3 linked regions of the Homo sapiens genome follow. The protein of the gene in region 3 purifies or fractionates together with the protein of the main gene of each other region. This does not show direct contact. Each region holds a gene or a part of one and is shown on either strand. Other genes may lie near its edges. The genes, in order: NUMA1, UBXN7 and PHIP.

Region 1 (7,313 bases), on a different chromosome or scaffold from region 3:
GAGCGGAGCGGGTCTTACGACCCGAGTCCAGGAAGACGTCTCCCAGGGAGTCCAGGCTGCTCTCCAGGGGGGCCTGACTCCGAGCAGGGATGGGAGTGAAGTAGAGACTCTCCAGGGATTCTACCTTGGGGGGCAGGCGCTGGGAGATAGGTGAGGCTGGTTCTCCAGGGACGCTGGTGCCGTCTGGCTGGGTACGAGGCAGCTTGCTATGGAAAGGAAACCTGCTGAGGTACAGTCCTTCACGCTAGAAGGCATTTTGTCCAGCCCTTTTTGAAAGTGACCATTTCCCATCCTTACTACAAGCAGATGAGGTCAAGCAGCCCATCTCTCTGATTTTTCAGAGGTACCAAGGAAAGCACTTGACCTGGGCCTTCCTTTCAGTCCACTCCCCTGGCTTCTCCTAATAGCTCCTCATAGTGGCAATGCCCAGACCCAGATGTCCCATCCCCACCAGATGCCCATGGCTGCTTCACAGCAAACACGTCCCAATCTAAGCCCACTTCTCTGTTCTTCCTCCTGCATCTCCCATTTCAGTGAATAGGAACGCCCCCCACTCAGGCCCCCAAGCCATGAACGTGGGCATAATCCAATGTCGTCCTGCTTGGCGAGCCCAATCACCAAGCTTCCTGAACAGCTCCTAACCACACCCCACTCCATGCTCATGTCCTTTCCCTGGTCTGCTTCATCTCCTCTCACCTAGACTCATCATGGCACTGACAGAGGAAGATGAGTGGTGACAAGCCAAGAACTCAGGCCAGGCTGCCCAGGGTCAAACCCCAGCTCTACCACTGGGGAACCTTGGGCAAGTGACTGCCCCTCTATGCCCCAGATTCATCTGTTAAAGGAGACAGAATAAACCTACCTCAGAGGGTTGTTGGGGGACAAATCAGGTATAATTGTCATGAGTGCTTTATGTCTAGCACAAAATAAGTAAATGTAAGTGTTTAATAAAAACATTTTTCCAGTCTTAACTTCTATACTAGCTATTAGAATAATCTTTTTAAGATGCAAATTAACCATGTACTCTTCAGTTTCAAATTCTTCCAAGGTTCCTTTTTTTTTCTCCTAAACCTTTCAATTACAGCCACCAAGGTTTCCTCAATGCCTTTAGGATCAAGTCTTAATAGTCGGTCTCCAATGGGCCTTCCTGGCCTCACATCTCAGCTTAGTCAGGCTCTTTCACAGCCTCTGTTCACACTGCTCTTCTCGTCAACCTGGCACACACACCTATGGATGCTTTCAAGACTCAGCAGGAGCGATAGCTTCCACGAAGCCTTTCTTGACCACTTGCTTTTTATTCCAACTGTGCCCTAAATAGATATCTGGTATAATACCCGTTTTTCGTTATTCTTCTCTAAGAATAAATTTAGATCACATCTTATTTATCTCACTAGGATACAGCCTGATAAACAGCAGGCACTCCATAAACAGACATAGGGAGGAAGGCTGCCTCCTGACCTGGTGATACTGAGTGGGGTCCCCTCCTCGCAGCTCAGATCCAGGCTGTCAATACTCAAGTCCAGCTGGGGCTTAGCCTGGGGCTCACGGCTCTTTAAAGCATCAGTTGCCACCTGGAATTTGCCCAGGTCTCGAAGCTGCTGGTCTGCATGGGCAACCTGAGAAGGAGAGGGCCAGGGGGAGAGTGAAGAAAAGCCTAAGGCAGCAGTGGCCTAGGAGGAGAGGGCACAGGGGTCCAGTGGAATAGGAGTGAGGTGAGTCTGCCAGCCAAATTCTTACCTGTGCCTCCAGGCTGCGCACCTGGGCAGTAAGGTGGCGGCAGGTCTGTTCAGCCTCCTTGGTCTTCAGCCCAGCCTGCTGTAGCTCATGGCCCAGCCGTTCAGCTTCAGCTCGCAGCTCTTTGTTTTCCTTCTGCAGCTGCTCCAGGCTCCGCAGCTGCTCCTGCAGCTCTTGGTTCTGCTGCTTCTTGGCATCATAATGTGTTTTGGCTTTCTCCATCTGTGGGCAGAGAGGGTGGGTGGGTGGGGTAGAGGTTGAAGGGCAGGAGGAAGGTGGCATGGGCTGGGGCTGGGCTCCTTACCTGCAGCTTATAGTGCTCAGCTGCCTGCTCCTTCTGGCTCAACTGGGCTTGCAGTTCATTCAGCTGGGCCTGGAGGCGCTGGGCCTCCTGCTGGCTCTCGCCTCCCTGAGCCTGGACAGCCTGAGAAGAAAGGCCACTCAGGAAAGCTGGTCTGGCCGCTCTACCCAAGTCCGCTTATCTGCACCAGCCACTGGGGCTCCACAGGTGCTTCAGACTCCTGCACTTTCTTAGGAAGCGGAAGAAAACCACACCACCCCAAATACTCTCTGCCCGACTACAGTCTACTAAACCTGAAGCCCACATGCCCTTCAGTCCACATCCGTAGTGGCCTTTCCCTGACCAGCTCCTGCCCTATCTTTGCCTTCTTTGAGACCAGACACAAAGTGTCACACCCTCTTTGCATGCACAATCTCCCGTAGGAGGAAGGGAACCAATCCTCAGGGAACACCCAGGTGCAGAGCCTTACTCTAAGGCACTTGGCATGTGAGCTCTCTTAGGACAGGGGAACTTGTTTCTCCTCAAAGCCACTCTGAGAAGTCACTTCACCCTCTTTTCAGAGGAGGAAACTGAGTTCAGAGATTTAAGCAAATTGACCAGAGTAACAGTGACTAAATGGCAGAGTAAGATTTGGTCCACCTAACTCCAAAAGCCCATGGGGGCTTATTTATGATGCCCACACTGCCTCCTGTCCAGACCATAACTCCTTAAGAGCAGGGCCTGATTCTCTGTCCATCTGCAAGGCCAACAAGTGCTTTGCTGTAGATAGAAGCATCCCCCCTTTGCCTCTCCTAACATAGGACAGGCCCCACAAGGAGTAGAATAAACATTTGTTTATTGCAATCAAGACATGCTGTGGCACCATGGTATGAAGGTGAGCAGGAGAAATGAAGCTCTGAGCTCCCAACAACTCCTAGGAGCCACCAGGGCTTTAGTGAGTCCCAATGCCACTGGTGCCCAATTCCTTTGCCCCTGACTGAAGGCTGTGAAGCCTAGAACTGCAAAAAGCAAGTATTAAACCAAAGAAGGTGACACAGTTGAAAGCATTAAGAATGTTATTAAACTGCACTGTAATATTCAACACTGGTGACACTCTCGTTCTTTCCCTGCCCAGACTATCTAGACTTACATTGTCCAAAAGAACTTTATGCAATGGTGGAATGTTCTGTATCTGCGCTGTCCAATACAGCAGCCACTAACCACATGTAGCTACTGAACAGGGGCACAGTGTAGCTAGTGTGATTGAAGAACTGGATTTACTTTAATAAATTTCAATAACCACACGTGACTAGTAGCTGCTGAAGTGGACAGTGACAGTTGAGAGATGGGAACCACCCTGGTTGTCTCTCGAGAGCTCCCAGAAGACACATGCAGGGGCTTCTAAGCCACAGGCTTCCTAGGAGGGCTACCTGGAATGCAGGGTGCCCCTCTTCTGCCCCGACACCCCCCACGGCCCCAGAGCTTAGAGAATAGCTTCCCTCCCTTGTCCAGAGGCCAGACCCATTCCCCCAGCTGCCCCACCTTCAGCTTCTGCTGCTGCACCTTGCTGGCTTGGTCAGAGTCAGCCAGTTTCTTACTCAGTTCTTCCACCTGGGGAGGGAAGAGGAGGACAGAAGACTCAGGAGGACTTCCCCTGGATGTTCATCCTGGATGTCCACCCATCATGGGGTTTCCCAGACCAGGATCCCCAGTGTTCCTAGAATAAACTCAGGCCCTTTCTCTGGCCTCCAATTACGGAACAGCCTGCTGCCCAGGCTGCTTGGCAGGGCCTGAATGAGGCAACCTAACACATAGATGTTGCCAGGGCCAACTGTTCTTGCGTCTACCCTGAGCCTGCAGAGACAGAGGCCTGCCCAACCCCCGTCACCTCCAAAATCAGGAGAATTGACTCTGGGGAGCCGACACCTCACCACCACCTTGCTGCCGCCACACTCTGCAGCCGCAACCTTCCCAGGACCTAGTCTGTAATTCTAGTAGACATACTCAATGAATTCCCATGCCTCCCTCCCAGAAACTGCCAAAGCCCAAGCCCACAGATGCTCAGACCTCTTCCCAACATCCACAGGCCGTTAGGGCTGGTGCTAGCAGCATGGCTGCTGTGGTTAGCATTGGGGAACAGATTGCTGGAAGACAAGAGCAGGGGCAGCACATGTACTCCAAAGCCCACCCCACTCCTACAAAGAGGAAGAGCACAGGGAGTAGGGGAAAAGAGAGAACATAACAGCCCCATGCACCCTTGGCTGCTCCAAGCATTCTGGGAGTTCAAGCATGACCAGGCAGCACAGGGGAGAGGCAAGGGCTCCATTGCTAACTGTTTGCTATTCACTTTGATTGTCCCCCACTATCACAGGCTCCTTAGAGGAGGGCCCAATTTTTCAGCAGCCCTGGGGTGGCTGGGTAGGAGAGTGATGGAGAAAGGGTGCTCTATAGCCTCGATGTCTCAGAAACACCAGCTCTATAGCCTCGATGTCTCAGGCAACACAGAGATGATTCCCATGAGAAAGAGGCAGCCAGACCATGTGACCCCCACTCCCCCGCCCCCATCTGGTATAGACCCCTCCTGCTCCTTCACCCTCGGTCTTCCTGCTACAGACATCTCTATGCTGTGCTCGGGGTTAGAGCCCCAGAAAGTGATGGGCAAGTGTCCTAAGCCCACAATCCTCCCTAACCTGTGGGGGCTGCCTCGCATATCACCTTCAAGGCTTCCATAAAGCTGTACTCTGGGAAAAAGGGACACCATGTTAAACAAGGCCGACACGGTAATTCTGCTGTTCCTCTTAGTCGGGTATCCTTAACTAGACACAGTACTTGGGAAGTTCTCGAATCCCAAGGATTGTGTCTGTCATTGGTTCAGGGTGGGAAAGATGAAGCCAGTGCTACCCCTTGTCCCTGATAGGCAAATGAGAGAAGGTGCAGAAGGGTGGAGAGGCCGACCTGGGATGGGTGGGATGAGGCCTGAGAGAGCCCAGCACACCACACTCCTGGGCAGCCTGGGCCTGGATTCCATGGCTTGACCCTGCCCCCTTCACAAACAGTTCACAACAGGAGCTGGCGGAGGCAAGCTGCAGCCGGGCTCATGCACCAAGACTGGTCACCGTTTAAGCAGCCAGCATTTAGCGAGGACCTCAGGCATTACCTGCTTAGTTTGCTCTCTCTGAAATACCTCTAGCTGCTCCACCTGTACATGGGGGAGGAGCAACAGAGACAGAGTGAGATGAGGCCAAAGAAGCACCAGCCCTGCTGCCAGGCTGACCTCACTGAGGCTCTGATACTTTCCCCTAAGGAGCTAGATTGACAGTAAGTTTAAAAATGCCAGTTAGGCTGATTCTAATCCCCAGTGGCTCCTGAGGCATCCAGTGCAGGTGTGCCTCTGAACAGGCTGGTGGTCATCACAACTTGACTCTCTAGTGACAGAGCCTTCAGGGGAGGGGAGGCCACTGACATTTTCTTTAGGATGACAGGGGCAACAGACTTGAACTCCACCAGCCACCTCTCCTTTTCTGCCACCCAGTGAATGAGGAAAGGCAAGACACTCCAGTGTAGGAGCTAGAGGCCCTGGACACAGAGGATCGATGTCCCCGCGCTCTCAGCTCCTGATCTTTGGGAGGGTGGTTGGGCTGAGTACCTTACCTGGGCAGTGAGTTTCTGCCTCTCTTCCTGGAACCGCTGCCTCTCCTCCAGGACCTTGACCTTGGCACCCTCATACTTGGCAGTCATCACCTCCAGCTCCCGGGCAGTGCTCTGTGCTTCTCGCTGCACCTCAGCCAGACGGGTCTCAGCATCAGCACGTACGGCTGCCAACTCTTGGACATACTTCTCCCGGGCCTGGTCCAACTCCACTTCCAGAAACTGCCGGCCAAGGTTGGCCCGCTCACCCAGCCCCCGGTTCTCCTCTGCCAGCAGGCCATGCGCCTTCTTCAGCATGCTCAGCTGCTCTGCATAGCTGGCCTTCTCTGCCCGCAGCTGCTGAGCTGTTCGCTCCTGCTCTGCCACCTTCTGCCGCAGAGGAATCAGCTCCCCAAGCTCCCGCTGGGCCCGCAGCAGCTCTGCCCGCAGTCCCCCAGCGGCCTGCTTGCTCTGCTCCAGCTCCTCACGGTGGCGTTTCTCGGCAGCGGCCTGCTCGGCCTGCAGCTGCTGGCAGAGGTGCTTAGCTGGCAGCAGCTCACTCACCAGGGCCTGTGTGCTGGTGTGCTCGAGCTGCAGGGTGGAGAGGGCCTGCTCTTTCTGGAAGAACTTCTCCTGCCACGCCTTCAATTCTTGGCCCAGCTCCTCCGCACGCTCAGCCTGTGAGGTCAGCTCCTGCCGCAGGTTCTCTGAAGCCACCCGCTGTTTCTCAGCCTCCTCCCGGAGGCTCTGCACCTCCTCCCGCAGAGCAGAGCTGCGTTCTGCAGCTCTGGCACTGTTGCTGGCTGTCTCTGCCTGCAGCAGGCGCAGCCTCTCCTCCAGCTTCTGGCTCTTCTCTGACTCGGCCATCACCAGCCGCTTCAACTCCTTGCTCTCCCCCTCCTTCTCCAGGACCTGGCGATTCAGGATGGACACCTCCTCCTCCAAGCTGCTGATGAGGCTATTTTTCCTCTCAGCCTCTTGCCGGCCCCGGGCCACCTGGGCCTTCCACTCATCTTCAGCCTTGCTGTGGTCTTGTACCTTGGTGCGGAAGGCAGCCAACTCCCGTTGGGCCGAGGCTAAGGCACTCTGACTGTGCCCTAGCTCCTGGGCCTTCTCCTCTAACTGGCCCTGCAGAGTCTCCAGAGCACTGTCCCGCTCAGCCCGGGAGGCCCGCTCAGCCTCGAGGCTGCGTTCCAGGCTGTCAGCCTGCTCCTGCTGCTTCTGGCATTGCTGTTCCAGCTTGCTCACCTCTGCCCGCAGTGCCTCCAGCTTGGGGCCTGTTGGCTCTGTCCTGCCAGCAGCCTCAGATTGGGCTCCTGAGCCAGATGCGTGCTCCTTTTCTTTCTTAGCCAGCTGTTCCTTCAGTTGCTTCACGGTTTGCCGAAGTTCCTCCAGCTCTTTTATCTGGGCTGCCTCCAGACCACGAAGCTTGGCCAACTCCTGGTCCTTGCCTTCCTTTTCCGTCAGGGCATGAGCCAGTGCCTCTTGCAGGGTAGCGAACTCCACACGCTGCTCGTTGAGGGCGTTCTGCAGCCGCATCTCAAGCTCTGCTCTGGCCGCCTTCTCCAGGGCAAGGTCAGCCTGGGCACGGCCCCGCTCCTGGGTCAGCCGCGCCACCTCCCTTTCCTGCTGCCCACGCTCCTCCTGCTGCTGCCCCTGGCTCTCCATCAGC
Region 2 (7,313 bases), on a different chromosome or scaffold from region 3:
AGGCAGGAGGATTATTGACCCCAGGAGCTTGAGGCTGCAGTGAGCTATGATAACACGGCTGCACTCCACCAGGGGCAAGAGAATGAGATCTTGTCTCAAAAGAAAAAAAAAAAAGACAATTAAAAATACCAAATGATGGAAAGAATGCAGAACAACTGGAACTCTCTTTTATTACTATTTTTTAATACAGATGTGGGGGTCTCTCTTTGTTGTCCAGGTTGGCGTCAAATTCCTGGCCTAGAGCAATCCTCCCGCATCAGCCTCTCAAAGCCACTATACTTTCCAAAGTGACTTTGGAAAGTCACTATACCAGAAAGTCACAAATTATTTGTCAGCTTCTTAGAAAGTTAATATAACTATTATTATATGATCCAATAAACACACTCCTAGGTATTTATCAAAAGATATTCACACACTTGTACACGACTGTTTTTGGCAGCTTTATTTATAATGTCCCCAAACTGGAAAGTGTCCTTCATTTGATAAATGCATAAACAAACCACAGTACAACCATACAATGGTATACTATTCCCCAATAAATAGGAAGGAACTACTAACCATGACAACATGAATGAATCTCAAACACAATAGTTTAAGAGCAAGAAGCCAGACTCAAAAGGTTACATATTGTGATTACACTTACATGACATTCTGGAAAACAGGAGACTAAAAACAGACTAGGCTATGGGCAGCCCAGCCCGCCAAGTCCTCGCCTGGCTGCATGCCAGCCTGATCAAGCCATAACCAGAGGACACAACAGCCCAACCTAGCGGGGCCAGTCACCACCTGGTCTGGGGATCATCTCTACCACAAGCGGCTGAGGCACAGCTGCCCTGGGGAGGGCGGAAGGCCAGGCATGTGGGCTAAACTGGCAGGTCACCGCAACATGTAAGTGTTTCCACGCCAGCAAACATTTACTGAGTATCTACCACGTATAAGAACATTGGCAACAAGCCCTCCAACAAGCCGGTCCCTGAGAGGAGCATGTGGACAGTGCCTGTGTGGGCCAATGGACCCTCTGTGGAGCTGGCCCCCTCATCCGCTCCAGATTGTGGCCTGGCCACTGTGCCTCTTTTCTTGGCTGTGATGGGGCTTGGGGTACTTGTTCCCCTCCTGCCTGACCATTAGGTGCCAGCTGGCTTCACTGTATCCTTGGGAAACTGTGGAGCTGGGTCATGGAAGAGTGGGGACATGGCAGAGGCCTGAAACTCAGCTCAGAGCCTCAGGGAGCATAAGGTGGGGCATAGCAGGACAATCCCAGTCTTGGAGACAAGTTGCTTATCTGCCTGGCCTCCAACCCCCATCTGACTTATCCACTTGACAAGGTGAGTGGATAAACCCAAAGTACCTTGGGGCACTTAAAGTCCTGCATGGATGTGAATTTTATCAACTCTAAGATTCTGAAGCACCACAGGGACAGAAGAGAGCCATCTTGAAGCTAATTGTGTTAGCTAAACAAAGGACTAATTAGAGACTAATTATTCCATTTACAAAATAATTTTTCACTTTTTTTTTTTTTTTTTTTGAGACAGAGTCACACTCTCTTGCCCAGGCTGGAGTGCAGTGGCAAGATCTTGGCTCTCTGCAACCTCTGACTCCCGGGTTCCAGCGATTCACCTGCCTCAGCCTCCCGAGTAGCTGGGATTACAGGTGCCCACCACCATGCCCGGCTCATTTTTTGTATTTTTAGTGGAGACAGGGTTTCACCATATTGGCCAGGCTGGTCTCAAACTCCTGATCTCATGTGATCCACCTGCCTCAACCTCCCAAAGTGCTGGGATTACAGGCATGAGCCACCACACGTGGCCACTCCTGATGCTTTAAGTGCCATGATACTCTCCTGGTTTTCCTCCTACATCTTTGGTTTTTCCTGAGTCTTCTCTGCACTTTCTTCTTTGCAGTCCCCCGGATGTTGGTGTTCCTTCAGCATTGTGTCCTGGAGTCTACTATTTCCCACACTACACTCCCTCCTGCAAGATGCCATCCTTTCTCTTTTCCTAATTTTTTTTTTTTTTTTTTTTTTTTTTTAAGAGACAAGGTCTCTCTCTGTCACCCAGGCTGGAGTATAGCAGCAGGAGCATAGTTCACTGCAGCCTCAAAGTTCTGGGTTCAAGCAATCTTCCCAAGTCAACCAGGATTACAGGTGCACACCACCAGGCCCAGTTAATTTTTTTTTACTTTTTGTAGAAACAGGCTCTTTGCTATGTTGCCCAAGCTGGTCTTGAATTTCTGGCCTCAAGCAATCCTTCCACCTTGGCATTCCAAAGTGCTGGGATTACCGGTGTGAGCCACTAGGCCTCGCCTCATCCATTTTTATAACCTTTTTTTTTTTTTTTTTTTGAGACAGAGTCTCGCTGTCGCCCAGGCTGGAGTGCAATGGCGTGATCTCAGCTCACTGCAACCTCCGCCTTCCAGGTTCAAGCAATTCTCCTGCCTCAGCCTCCTGAGTAGCTGGGATTACAGGCACACACCACCATGCCCGGCTAGTTTTGTATTTTTAGTAGAGACGGGGTTTCACCATGTTGGTCAGGCTGGTCTCAAACTCCTGACCTCAGGTGATCCACTCGCCTCGGCCTCCCAAAGTGCTGGGATTCCAGGTGTGAACCACCGCACCTAGCCCCATTTTTATAACTTTAACTGCCATGAATATGACAGATTTCTCACTCTTCTTTCTAGACCCAAATATTCATCTGCTTCAACAGCTCCATCTGGAAGTCCTATTAGCAGCACCTTAACTTATCCAAAACTGAGCTAACCATCTTCTCCCCACACCTTTCTGCTATTCCATACCTTCATAAATAGCACTGTTACATACCTAGGTGTCCAAAACAGAATCCTAAACTTCATTTTGACTCTGATTTCTTCCCATACCTTTTGGAGTCCACTTCTCCGCCACTAACTTTTTTCAGGACACCACTATCTTTCTTGGGTTAATATAACAGCCTTCTACTGATCTCTGTGCCTATCTCTTCTCCATTATAGCCAAGTAACTCTTTCTTTAAAAAAAAAAAAAAGGTCAAATCAGATGTAACTCCTTTTTTAATAAATAAAATTTTAATACATTTTGTAGAGATGGGGTCTCACTATGTTGCCTAGGCTGATCTCAAGCTCCAGGCCTCCCACCTCAGCCTCCCAAAGTGCGGGAATTATAGGTGTGAGCCACAGTGCCCAGTCTCACTCCTCTAATTAAAACCCTTGACTCCCCACTATTCTCAGAATAAAGACAAGATTTTTTTTAACATGGCTTATAAGGCCCAACCCAATCTCCCATTTATCTCTTGAGGTCCATTTATTGCACTAGCTGTGCTTTACTCATTTGGAATTATCAATTCCCTAAACCGATTGTCTCCCCTCTCTCATCTCTGTCTGTATACATGTCTGCCCAATTCCCCTCCAAGTCTCTGCATGTTTCTCCTGCAAGAAACATCTTCCAGATTTTAGATAAAAAAGTATTTATTCTGGGAAGGTTTTCTTGACCTCCCTCTTTTGTGCTCCAGTATTAGCTCCTTACCATTCTCTCACTGTATTCTAATACCTATTCGTGTGTCTCTATTCCTGTTAACCTTTAAGCTTTCTGAGGACAGACACCACGCCTTGCTCACAGTTGTATCCTTAAGATGTGAACCATGCCTGGCACGTAGCAGTCTACCAATAAATGAATCTACTAGTAAGATTCCATTCGCAACTCAAAATTACCTCCCTTAAATTTCTGAAACTTCAGCCAGGCATGGTGGCTCAAGCCTGTAATCCCAGCGCTTTGGGAGGCTGAGGTGGGTGGATCACCTGAGGTCAAGAGTTTGAGACCAGCCTCGCCAACAAGATGAAACCCCATCTCCATTAAAAATACAAAAAATTTAGCTGGGTGTCGTGACGCGCATCTGTGGTCCCAGCTGCTCAGGAGGCTGAGGCAGGAGAATCACTTGAACCGGGGAGGCGGAGGTTGCAATGAGCCAAGATCACAGCACTGCACTCCAGCCTGGGTGACAGGATAAGACTTCGTCTCAAAAAAAAAAAAAAAAAGAAATTCTGAAATGTATTCCCTATTGAAACTATTCTTAAAATTCCTGAAGTTTTCTCTTAACATCTATAATACTGTGACCACCTTTCCAGACACAGAGAACTTAATCATAGTTTAATATTAACCCAAGAGAAAGGAAATGTTCTGTACAAAAGCATATGAATGAGGCCAGGCGCGGTGGTTCACACCGGTAATCCCAGCACTTTGGGAGGTCGAAGCAGGAGGATCACCTGAGGTCGGGAGTTCGAGACCAGCCTGACCAAAATGGAGAAACCCCGTCTCTACTAAAAATACAAAATGAGCCGGGCGTGGTGGCGCATGCCTGTAATCCCAGCTACTCAGGAGGCTGAGACAGGAGAATCGCTTGAACCCGGGAGGTGGAGGCTGCAGTGAGCCAAGATCGTACCTTTGCACTCCAGCCTGGGCCACAGAGTGAGACTCTGTCTCAAAAAAAAAAAAAAGAACATGAATGGAAATTGGCCATAAAGTTAAATACCACAAACATGACAGCCCCTAATTTTTATAATAAATATGCACTCATCAACCATCTGAAAGATTAAGGTCTCTTCTACAACTGAGGTTCTATAATTTTCTCAAGTATGTTATTGCCGCTATGCACAAAGCTCTATGAATTTCCGTACCAGTAACCTCTTGTACTCTTCTTAGCCTCCACTTTCTATGCCCTCACATTTGTCCTTAGACTGCTAGCTTATTTTTCACCTGTTCTATAGTGTCTATGTATCCCTCACCTTCACTCCATGAATTATTCTGATTACACATGTGCACCAGTGTATATGTGTAGTGGATGTCAGCCCAAAGTTGGTGCTAATGGAATACTGCCATGGCTCAAAACATTTTTACTTTTATTTACTTTTTCTTTTTTTGAGACAGGGTCTCGCTCTGTGCTCGCTTCAGCAGCACATATACTAAAATTGGAGACAGAGTCTCGCTCTGTCGCCCAGGCTGGAGTGCAGTGGCTGGATCTCGGCTCACTGCAACCTCCGTCTCCTGGGTTCACGAGATTCTCCTGCCTCAGCCTCCTGGGTAGCTGGGACTACAGGCGTGCACCACCATGCTCAGCTAATTTTTGTATTTTTCGGAGAGACAGGGTTTCACCAGGTTGGCCAGACTGGTCTGAAGCTCCTGACCTCCGGTGATCCACCCGCCTTGGCCTCCCAAAGTGCCTGGGATTACAGGCGTGAGCCACCGCACCTGGCTTCAAAACATTTTTAAAAATTGCTCTTTCAGAATAGATCCAGCTGCATATTTTTCCTTCATGTTTTGAGAATTGATATGACTTCTGAGTTTTCAACAGTAATTCAAAGCCATGTATGATAAATATCAGAGGAGATCAAACAGTAGTATTGTAAAATGTGGAATGACTATAAAAGTAACAAGACTGGTTTTCTTATGTAGCTTTAAATGACACAGAAAGCATCAGTGGGGCCGGTTGCAGTGGCTCACGCCCATAATACCAGCACTTTGGGAGGCTGAGGAGGGCAGATCACTTGAGGTCAGTTTGAGACCAGCTTGCCCAACATGGTGAAACTCCATCTCTACTAAAAATACAAAAATCAGACGGGCATGGTGGCTTGAGCCTGTAATCCCAGCTACTGCGGAGGCTGAAGCAGGAGAACTGCTTGAACCCAGGAGGCGGAGACAGCAGTGAGCCGAAATCATGCCACTGCACTCCAGCCTGGGTGACGGAGTGAAATTCTGTCGAAAACAAAAACAAAAACAAAAACAAACAAAAAGCAAGCATCAATGGTAAACCATACTGTATACAGCTTCTCAGTGTGGTTACTTCAAAGGTCATCACTTCTCTTGGCTACCTGCTTATCAGTCTGACCATGCAAAAAAGGTTTGTAGCATAATGTTAAGTGAAAATTTCAGAACCGTGTATTTTAGCTGGGCATGGTGGCACATGCCTGTAGTCTTAACTGCTCTGGAGGCTGAGGCAGGAGAATCACTTGAGCCCAGGCGGTAAGGATGCAGCAAGCTATAATTGTGCCACTGTACTCCAGCCTGGGTGACAGAACAAGACCGTCTTTAAAAAAAAAAAAAGAAAAAGAAATCTCAGAAATTGTATATACTATGATCCACAATGTAAAAATAAGCATATAAACAAGAAGTGGAAGATAATATGTAAAATAAATATTGCTGTTGTGAGAAGGAGAATTAGTTCTTTTCCCTTTTATCAAAATTATTTCGGCCAGGTGCAGTGTCCCACGCCTGTAATCCCAGCACTTTGGGAGGCCAAGGTGGGTGGATTGCTTGAGCCCAGGAGTTCAAGACCAGCCTGCACAACAAAGTGAGACCCCATCTCCACAAAAAATAAAGAAAGTTACCCTAGAGGCTGCAGTGAGCCGTGATCACACCACTGCACTCTAGTCTGGGTGGCAGTGTGAGACCCAGTCCGTCTCAAAAAAAAAAAAAAAAGTTTTTATGATATTGTCTTTTTAATAATCTTTTTTAATCAGCCATTACTGAACCAGGCACAGTGATGTGCACCTGTAGCCCCAGTTACTGGGAGGGCTGAGGCAAGAGGATGGCTGAGCCCAGAAACTGGAGAACAGCTTGGGCAACAAAGAGAGGAGACCTCCATCTCTTAAAAAAAAAAAAAAAAAATCAAAAATCCGTCATTAGGCCAGGCGCGGTGGCTCACACGTGTAATCCCAGCACTTTGGGAGGCCGAGGCAGGCGGATCACGAGGTCAGGAGATCGAGACCATCCCAGATAACACGGTGAAACCCCGTCTCTACTAAAAATACAAAAAATTAGCCAGGCGTGGTGGCAGGCGCCTGTGGTCCCAGCTACTTGGGAGGCTGAGGCACGAGAATGGTGTGAACCTGGGAGGCAGAGCTTGCAGTGAGCCAACATCACGCCACTGCACTCCAGCCTGGGTGACAGAGCGAGACTCCGTCTCAAAAAAAAAAAAAACATCAGTCATTATTTCATACTCACTGAATCAGAGAGAGATCTGTTCTATTCAGTAAGAAATAAGACTTTTCTAAAATCTTTCAATTTTCCGTTCTATTTCTAAATGCCAAAAAAAGATAAGACTCACATTTATTTTTATTTTTTCTTTTTCTTTTTTTTGCTCCTGCCTAAAAAGTAAGGACTCACATTTTTGATGATGCATTTGTTTTTACAAGAATATTGAGCTTCCAAGTAAAACCTTTGTGAAATCAGAGCATAAGCTATTAAGGTCACTAAAATAAATATAAAATACCTTTTAATTATAAACACTACGATTAAAACGTATGTGGAGAGAACCCCAAAAAAATTTTAAGAC
Region 3 (7,313 bases):
GTATTATTACAAAAGAGAAATAAGTAAAGAGTGGTTGCTGAAAGGTAATTTTTCTTGGCTGGTTCTTCTAAGTATATACTAGGTATTGTTATTAGCAGACTTCATAAAGAAAAGGTTATCAGGAATTTTTTTTACCTTCCTTCCTCAACTTAGAAATTTATTATATACAAAATCATTTTAACAAAACATCTTAGGGAGAAATTAACACAAAATTACAAATCACTCCATGTGCTTAATTTGAAATGTTATGGCCTTATGTATTCATATCTAATGGTCTTCATGCTAAAATTGGGATTCTTAGTCAATAAAAATGCATGCCAATCTGACAAAATTTCTAGGAAAACTGCAATAACCTTCTTTCCATCATTCCTTTTTTCCCAGAAATTGCACATTTTTGAGAAAATATTTATGCAAAGTGTTCCACTGAAATGTATCTCTTACGAAAGTATCTGAATAGTGAAGTATTTATCACTCATCACAGTAACTTACGGTAAGAAATCAATAAAATTGTTTTATTAAATGTACACATAAAAAGGCATATAAGTTTTTGACCTTCAGTTGTTTTGGAATTAAATTACATTTCGGCACCCAAATATCTTTTAACTGACAGTTTTCACACTTTGCAAAACACACAGGGCACTGGAAACTCTAATGAACCAGCATTTACATAATGGTATCTGCCATATGACCACTTTGGTAAGCAGCTTGTTGAGATTATGTACTAAGTGCTTTATGTGATGCCAAAAAACTTTAAAAAGCAAATAATAAATCATGAGGCTCTACAAAATAGCTTAGAAAAACAAGTTTTCTATTTATTTAAAAATAAGTTTGTAGTTACTACATTGCAGGGACAGGTATTCTTACACATACATTCTAGTTTGTATAAAAGGATTCAAAGAATTATGCATCAAAACTAACATAGAAAGTGTCCACGTAACAGTAAAGAAAGGTCCAATCAGTATGTACAAAAAGAAAGGGCACTGCTATTCTGGTGTGAAACTGCTGTTTATAATATGATACTCCAGGTTCGGAAGGAAAAAAACAAACTTCAATAAAGCTAAATAATTAATTTGTTTTAAAACTCTGTGTTACTTATTACATACAACAGATCTGCTTGTGTTTAAACATTGTTTTCTGTACAAAATAAGCATAATCTTAATTTGAAAATGTGTCAGTTTCAACTTTCACCCTCTAGGTCAGTTACTTTTTAAAAATTGAGCTACATTCTACACATGTCTAAATATCCTGTGACAGGATTTAAGTTTTCTAAAAGATCTTCAGTAAGACCCCTGTCTTCTTGCAGTTTTAATATGGTCCAAAAATGTAACTTTGTATTGTCTCATGTTATAGTCTATCATTGTGACTAATCAACACACACAATCTTAAAGTAACCAGCATGTGTGCATCTGCCTTATATGCATGTACTATATTCCATCTTGAACCTATTTTCTTGGCTCCTTGAATTGTAGAAACTCAGCCATGCACTAAGTATTTGGTCTGTGCCATAAGGTTAATTTCCTGATAATTTTTATCTGCATTAAAAAAGTATTTCAACACAGAGCTATCAAAACTAAAAATAATATCTATTTATAGCTCATATTTTCTACTCACTGTTCTACTGCAGTGTGTACAAGGTTTATCTCTGGAGCGCCAAAAGTGGTACTTACAGTCTTCTGACTCAATTTGACCTTTTCTTGGGTACTATACATAGTTCGTAATGACTTTTCATTTGGAGCAAACTTTGCTCAGTATAATTAACAAAAATAGTTTCTTAGTAAATGTAATATTAATTTTAGTTCAGATCACTTGGAAATTAGGGGAACTAAGGGAAACTGCAAGGGTAGAAGCAAAGAAAAGTGTATTTTTCAAATTTTAATGGGAAAATAAATTCTTGCCTAAGTGTAACAAAACCACTGCTCAATCTGTTATGTTAGAAATACTTTTTAGGTTAATAGGAGTAATCAGATGATAAAACTACTTCCCCTATTATGACTTTTAAAATCATGTAACTCCTGCATATAAGCAGAACACTTACAGTCCTTTAATCACTCAAGTATCTTGGTCCTTTCAACCTACTCAAAAATAAATTTCAGGTAACAAAAACATTCAGAATATATCCGTTTTCATTAGATAGAAAACTGAAAAAGTTGCTTCTAGCTGACATTTGAGAGAGATATACAGTAGGTATATATGTATAAAATGGAATGTCAGAATTGAAGTAAACATTGTTAACTGGAGAAATTAATTTATATTACAAATCATATCTGAAAACATGTAAATGCTGCTAACATATAAGATAAAAATATTTGAATACATTTCTTAAAATGTCTGATTCCTCTACTGCACTGCAGATGAGGGACAGTTCTAGATGTTAACATACATGCTGCATAAAGATATTTTCTCTGATTACTGTATCTTATGTAATTCATTTCCAAGTGATAACTAAATTTAGTCAATCCCAAGTCTCAGATGTTACCTAATCCAGCTCACAAATATTCCACATACTTATTTACTTGGATTGGAGGAAGACAGTTTTATAATAATGCCAGCAGTCTTTAAATTTGTAGTGAAGTTGTGCAATAAAAACAATTGAAATAAGGCCAATCTTTAGTTTATAATACATGCAGAAAATAGTCCAATGCCACTATAGCAGGTCACAAAGGATAAAATTTTAAAAAGCTATGTATCTATTGCCCAGGGCTGTGAGTCTCTGATTAGACTAAATATTTAAACTAATGCTCCACTGAAACTTTTCATCTGGGACTTGAGAATGTTGGAGTTGAGGGAGAGAATACTAGGGTTGGGTACTTAGAAATACCTAAATTGGTTTACACTTTCCATGCATGTAAGAGTTATATTTCTGAACTTTCAGTAAATTGGAGATGTTTTTATTGCTTACCTAAGACAACTGCCAATATTTCTTTCTGGCCTATTAACAGTACATACATAGTGTTACTGCCTCAAAGAGGATTATTTTCCCAAGTGGTAAAGAAAACAAAAATATGGTGATGACTTAAATTTCTTAATTCAACTTCTGTAATGCATAGAAGCTAAATTATAAAAATATAAAATCTAAATATATTGGTATTACTAATACATGTTTAAGTGTTTCGGTTACAAAGAATCTGATCCAAGTTACTGTGCTTTACTAAGAAACCAGTGTCTAATAATGTCCAAATAAGGTCATAAATATACAGTGTCTGTAGAACAGGAATAATACATTTACATGTTATAGGAAAGATGGTAAATACTCATTTCTTTGCTTGAGTTGGAATTAACACATACACTGTACTAGAGGTATATTCCACTCTAAGACTGTGTACGCTCTTCCTTTTTCTGTACACAACTTAAAACTGTACATTTTTTTTACAAAAATTGATTTTATAGCCTATTATTTTTTTCTTAACACAATGCAGATAACATCAGGAAATTACATATTTCAAATAGATTGCCTTCAAAAGCAACTAATTAATGACAAATTTCAAACATACACTATTATTTTCAAGAATGGTGTAACTGAAAGACTCATTTTTCTATACAATCAAGCCATCCATTTCTGCATTATGAAGAGTTTAACTACTGAATTTTAATTTTATAGTTAAATATATTTGTTAGAAAAAAATAAATATACAAAAAACCTGAAAAATTTGAAATTATTTTTCAACTGCAAAATCTCAGCAATGCAGTCAAGATCTGGAAAATGGTTTACTTAATTTCACAGGAGAATTTCTGTACAAATTTAGTTACAAATGATCTAAAAAGCCCAAATGTATCACTTTTTCATTCTTCACGACAGTTAAATGACAGCTAATATTTATCCTTATCAGAAATAATTATGTAATGTATTTTGCCAAGGTTCAATTGCAGACTTTATTTTTCTACATCAGGGTCATGCTGATACATATTTTCCCCATCCTCACTTTTTAAAAATGTAGTATCTGAAAATTTTGATTACATTTTTGTACCATACCAGTCCTCAGAAAATACTACATTCTTTAAATTTTTAAAAAAATGGACAGTAATTTTTAAACAATAGAAATGGTAAGTATGTTGGTTTTTAAGGTATAAAATAACTAACTGTACCATAAACAAATAAATAACTGCTTTCCTTTTCCATAGCAGTACATATAGCAATACATTCTCCTAAGTCATATAGTTATCATTTACAATAGACAACTTAATTTTACTAATGATGCAAAAAATAATAGAATACAAGGCACAATCATTAAATGGAGTTTTTCTTTAGGGTGTATATTGACATACCAGCATGATAAGGATACCGTAAAAAGTGCAGAAAAAACACAATGTGCAATGAGACCACTGTATAAAACATGATTGCATAAAAAGTGATTTGGCCTATTTTAACCTTTAATAATTGAAAATAACCAATTTCCCCCTTAAAATTAAACTATAAAGTATGACATTTTAAAATTATTTTTATTCTACTGCTATCTAAAAAATCCTGAAAAAAGAATTTATACCTGGGTAATAGTATATAAGTATGTGTTTGTATATATATTTAATTATACCCATTTATCAATATATACACATACACACACAGACACGTTTCTTTGTAAGTCATTTTAGGCTATTAGATATGTCTAAAGTTTAGAAATGACATTAATCCAGATCAACAAGTAAACATCAAATCCCATACCTTTTTTCCTGTATTTTCCTTGAATCCTTTAACCACTTAAACATTTCCTCTAGAACATCTCTGTCAAAGGACCCACCAGTGCATTATTTTCTATTAGTACCAAAAAAAGATATATCTCAGCATAACTCTTTAATAACTTGCTCTTTAGAATATATAGCCTTTCCAATATTGAAAAGTGTATGCTGTCCTGACGTCAAAAACAGGCTTTCCACTGCACTGATTCTCAGTCTTTGGCACAATAAACAGAGATTGAGTGATATAAGAATCAAGGTCTGAAAAATTAGACAGTCAAATGTTTTCCAATGTGGATATGTTTCCCTTCATCAGTACATTTTCTCTTGTTTGGCAGAAATGGAATAAAGCAAAAGCCTCCTCTAGATACTTTGTAGATGAACATTCTATAATTAAAATTAAACTGTTTAGGGTATCAAATGGTGGAAATTTTATATTTATCTTTTAGAGGAAACATTTCTTAATTCACTGCTACTCTGTATAACATCTATCTTTTAGGGGCATGACTTGTATCAATAGAAATGTACCTCACTTGGTCAAAAATAATTCATTTTAACATGAAATGCTCTATCACTAGGAATATTATGCTCCTAAAGAGTGTAGCAGAATTGTCTTTTCTATAAATAAATCAGGAATTCATTATAGATCAATTTCTTTCGTTTCAAACAGTGAATGAAATGAATGTGAAAATGCATAACCTATCTAAGGGCAATAAATAGCAAACATTTAAAATATATATGTATATATTTATATATATATATATATATTCATTTAAAGAAGTGAAGTGTCTCGTAAGTTTGTTTTTTTTTTTTTTTTTTTTTTTGCAAATCAAATCATAACATTCCCTACTCCACCACAGCAGCAAGGAAGCAGAAGCCTTAGTTCTACTTATTCCTTAACTGTACCTGCTTTATAGATTTTGAAGTAAAATATTTTGGTACAAGTTACCAACCAATTAAATTAGCTTTTGCTTTTTCAGTCAACTTTCGGACTCGTCCTCTACTAGAAGTTCCAAAAGTTAAAGAGGTGTCTTCGAACAACAGCTGCCTTTGCTCCTCTTCAGAGTCATCCTCATTATAGAAAGCTGTCCTTCGACCTTGATTTCTAGTTCTCATGTGGGGTTCAGAGCCTTTGAGTTCTTCAAACTCTTCTTCCTCATCTATAGGATCATCTATCTTTTTTCGGTTACTTCTCCTTAACACTTTGACACTTGCAGGGACTAGGAGATCTGCATCTAATTTTTGTGTCTTCATCTTCCTTTTGGGCTTCCTACCTCCACGATTCTTTTTCTGTAACAAATCTTCCTTTACATTATTAGTTTCAGAAAGAAAATTGCATGTTGAAGAAGGAAGTACTTCATCTCTGATGGGATGCACATTATTTTGCTCTAAATCTTCTGGCTTTGCATACTGTAGCTTTTTGGGCTTTCTACCCCTTTTCTTGTGTATAATTTCACCACTATTGGTATTAACTTCTACTTTAGGTTTCCTTCCAGGTCCCCTCTTCACAAGTTTTGATGGCTGTCCTCCATGGCCATTTACTTGAATGGTTCCTGGTACAAGAGCGTTGTTCTTACAATCTCCTAAAAGGGAACAACAGTACACTTAATATATGGAGTTTCTTTTTTTGTTTGACTCTCAAACTTGTCAGTAAGGCCCCATTGGTATACTTATATGTAATGACATAATCCAAATTATTTTATTAAAATGAGAAAAAAGAACCTAGAAAACACTAATAGTTCAATGATCTTATTTATTTTCTAATTAAAAGAGACAGATTCTTAACGATCTCATGAGGGAGGTAAAGCTCATAGAAAATAAGTGACTTATCTAAGTTAACATTGTGATTGAGTATAAAGCTGGGATGACTAAAGGTTTCTTATTCCTAACTTAGAAATAAGTTACTCTTGGTCAAAAACTTTGTTCTTAGAACTGTTTAAAGAGGATTTAAAAACAACTAAATGGCAGTTTTCACAGGCTTTGAAAAGTCCTATCTCCTTGTGTAATAAATGGCAAATGACTATAATCCTAGGAAATACTGATTATATATATATATCAATCAAAATCACTATGTGTGCCACCATTATCATGATTAAGATCCCACTGTAACAAACTCCATGATAAAAGGCCATTATGCTTCATAAAACAGGAGAGAAAATCTGGCAATCAAATTCTAAACCTGAAGGATCTGGAGATGATGAATTACCTTTCTGTTGTAGAAAAAAATGCTATAACTTAGATAAAGGAAAAATATGCCACAGGAACTACCAGTAACTAACTCTCTTTCCCTCCAAATTTCTGACATGTTTTTATTTGATATGGTAGGTGATTTGCAATGCTCTATTTTTGAGGAAATTCATAGATGGAAACTGCTTTTAAAGAGAATACATCTTCATAACAGCATTTTTGGTCACAGGTTGGAACTGTACTTTGTAAATAAGAAAATCATGGTTGGTCGGGTGCAGTGGCTCACGATTATAATCCCAGCACTCTGGGAGGCCAAAGTGGGCGGATCACCTGAGGTCAGGAGTTCGAGACCAGCCTGGCCAACATGGCGAAACCCCGTCTCTACTAAAAGTACAAAAAGTAGCTGGGCGTGGTGGTGGGTGCCTGTAATCCCAGCTACTCAGGGGGCTGAGGCAGGA

What was found.
Region 1: the proteins of PHIP (region 3) and NUMA1 purify together in Homo sapiens (affinity purification with mass spectrometry; 2 studies listed by BioGRID and IntAct, with this or other methods). This does not show direct contact.
Region 2: the proteins of PHIP (region 3) and UBXN7 purify together in Homo sapiens (affinity purification with mass spectrometry; 2 studies listed by BioGRID). This does not show direct contact.

What each region holds. Positions count from the first base shown.
Region 1 is NC_000011.10:72,007,230-72,014,542, forward strand, and holds part of NUMA1 (nuclear mitotic apparatus protein 1), read right to left. Parts: coding exon 5,666-7,313; intron 5,214-5,665; coding exon 5,172-5,213; intron 3,626-5,171; coding exon 3,557-3,625; intron 2,159-3,556; coding exon 2,039-2,158; intron 1,957-2,038; coding exon 1,738-1,956; intron 1,617-1,737; coding exon 1,459-1,616; intron 972-1,458; exon of another isoform or gene 917-971; coding exon of another isoform or gene 863-916; exon of another isoform or gene 207-862; coding exon 1-206. UniProt on the Homo sapiens protein: Microtubule (MT)-binding protein that plays a role in the formation and maintenance of the spindle poles and the alignement and the segregation of chromosomes during mitotic cell division.
Region 2 is NC_000003.12:196,422,383-196,429,695, forward strand, and holds part of UBXN7 (UBX domain-containing protein 7), read right to left. Parts: intron 1-7,313. UniProt on the Homo sapiens protein: Ubiquitin-binding adapter that links a subset of NEDD8-associated cullin ring ligases (CRLs) to the segregase VCP/p97, to regulate turnover of their ubiquitination substrates.
Region 3 is NC_000006.12:78,935,080-78,942,392, forward strand, and holds part of PHIP (PH-interacting protein), read right to left. Parts: intron 6,252-7,313; coding exon 5,614-6,251; 3' UTR 454-5,613; coding exon of another isoform or gene 382-453; 3' UTR 1-381.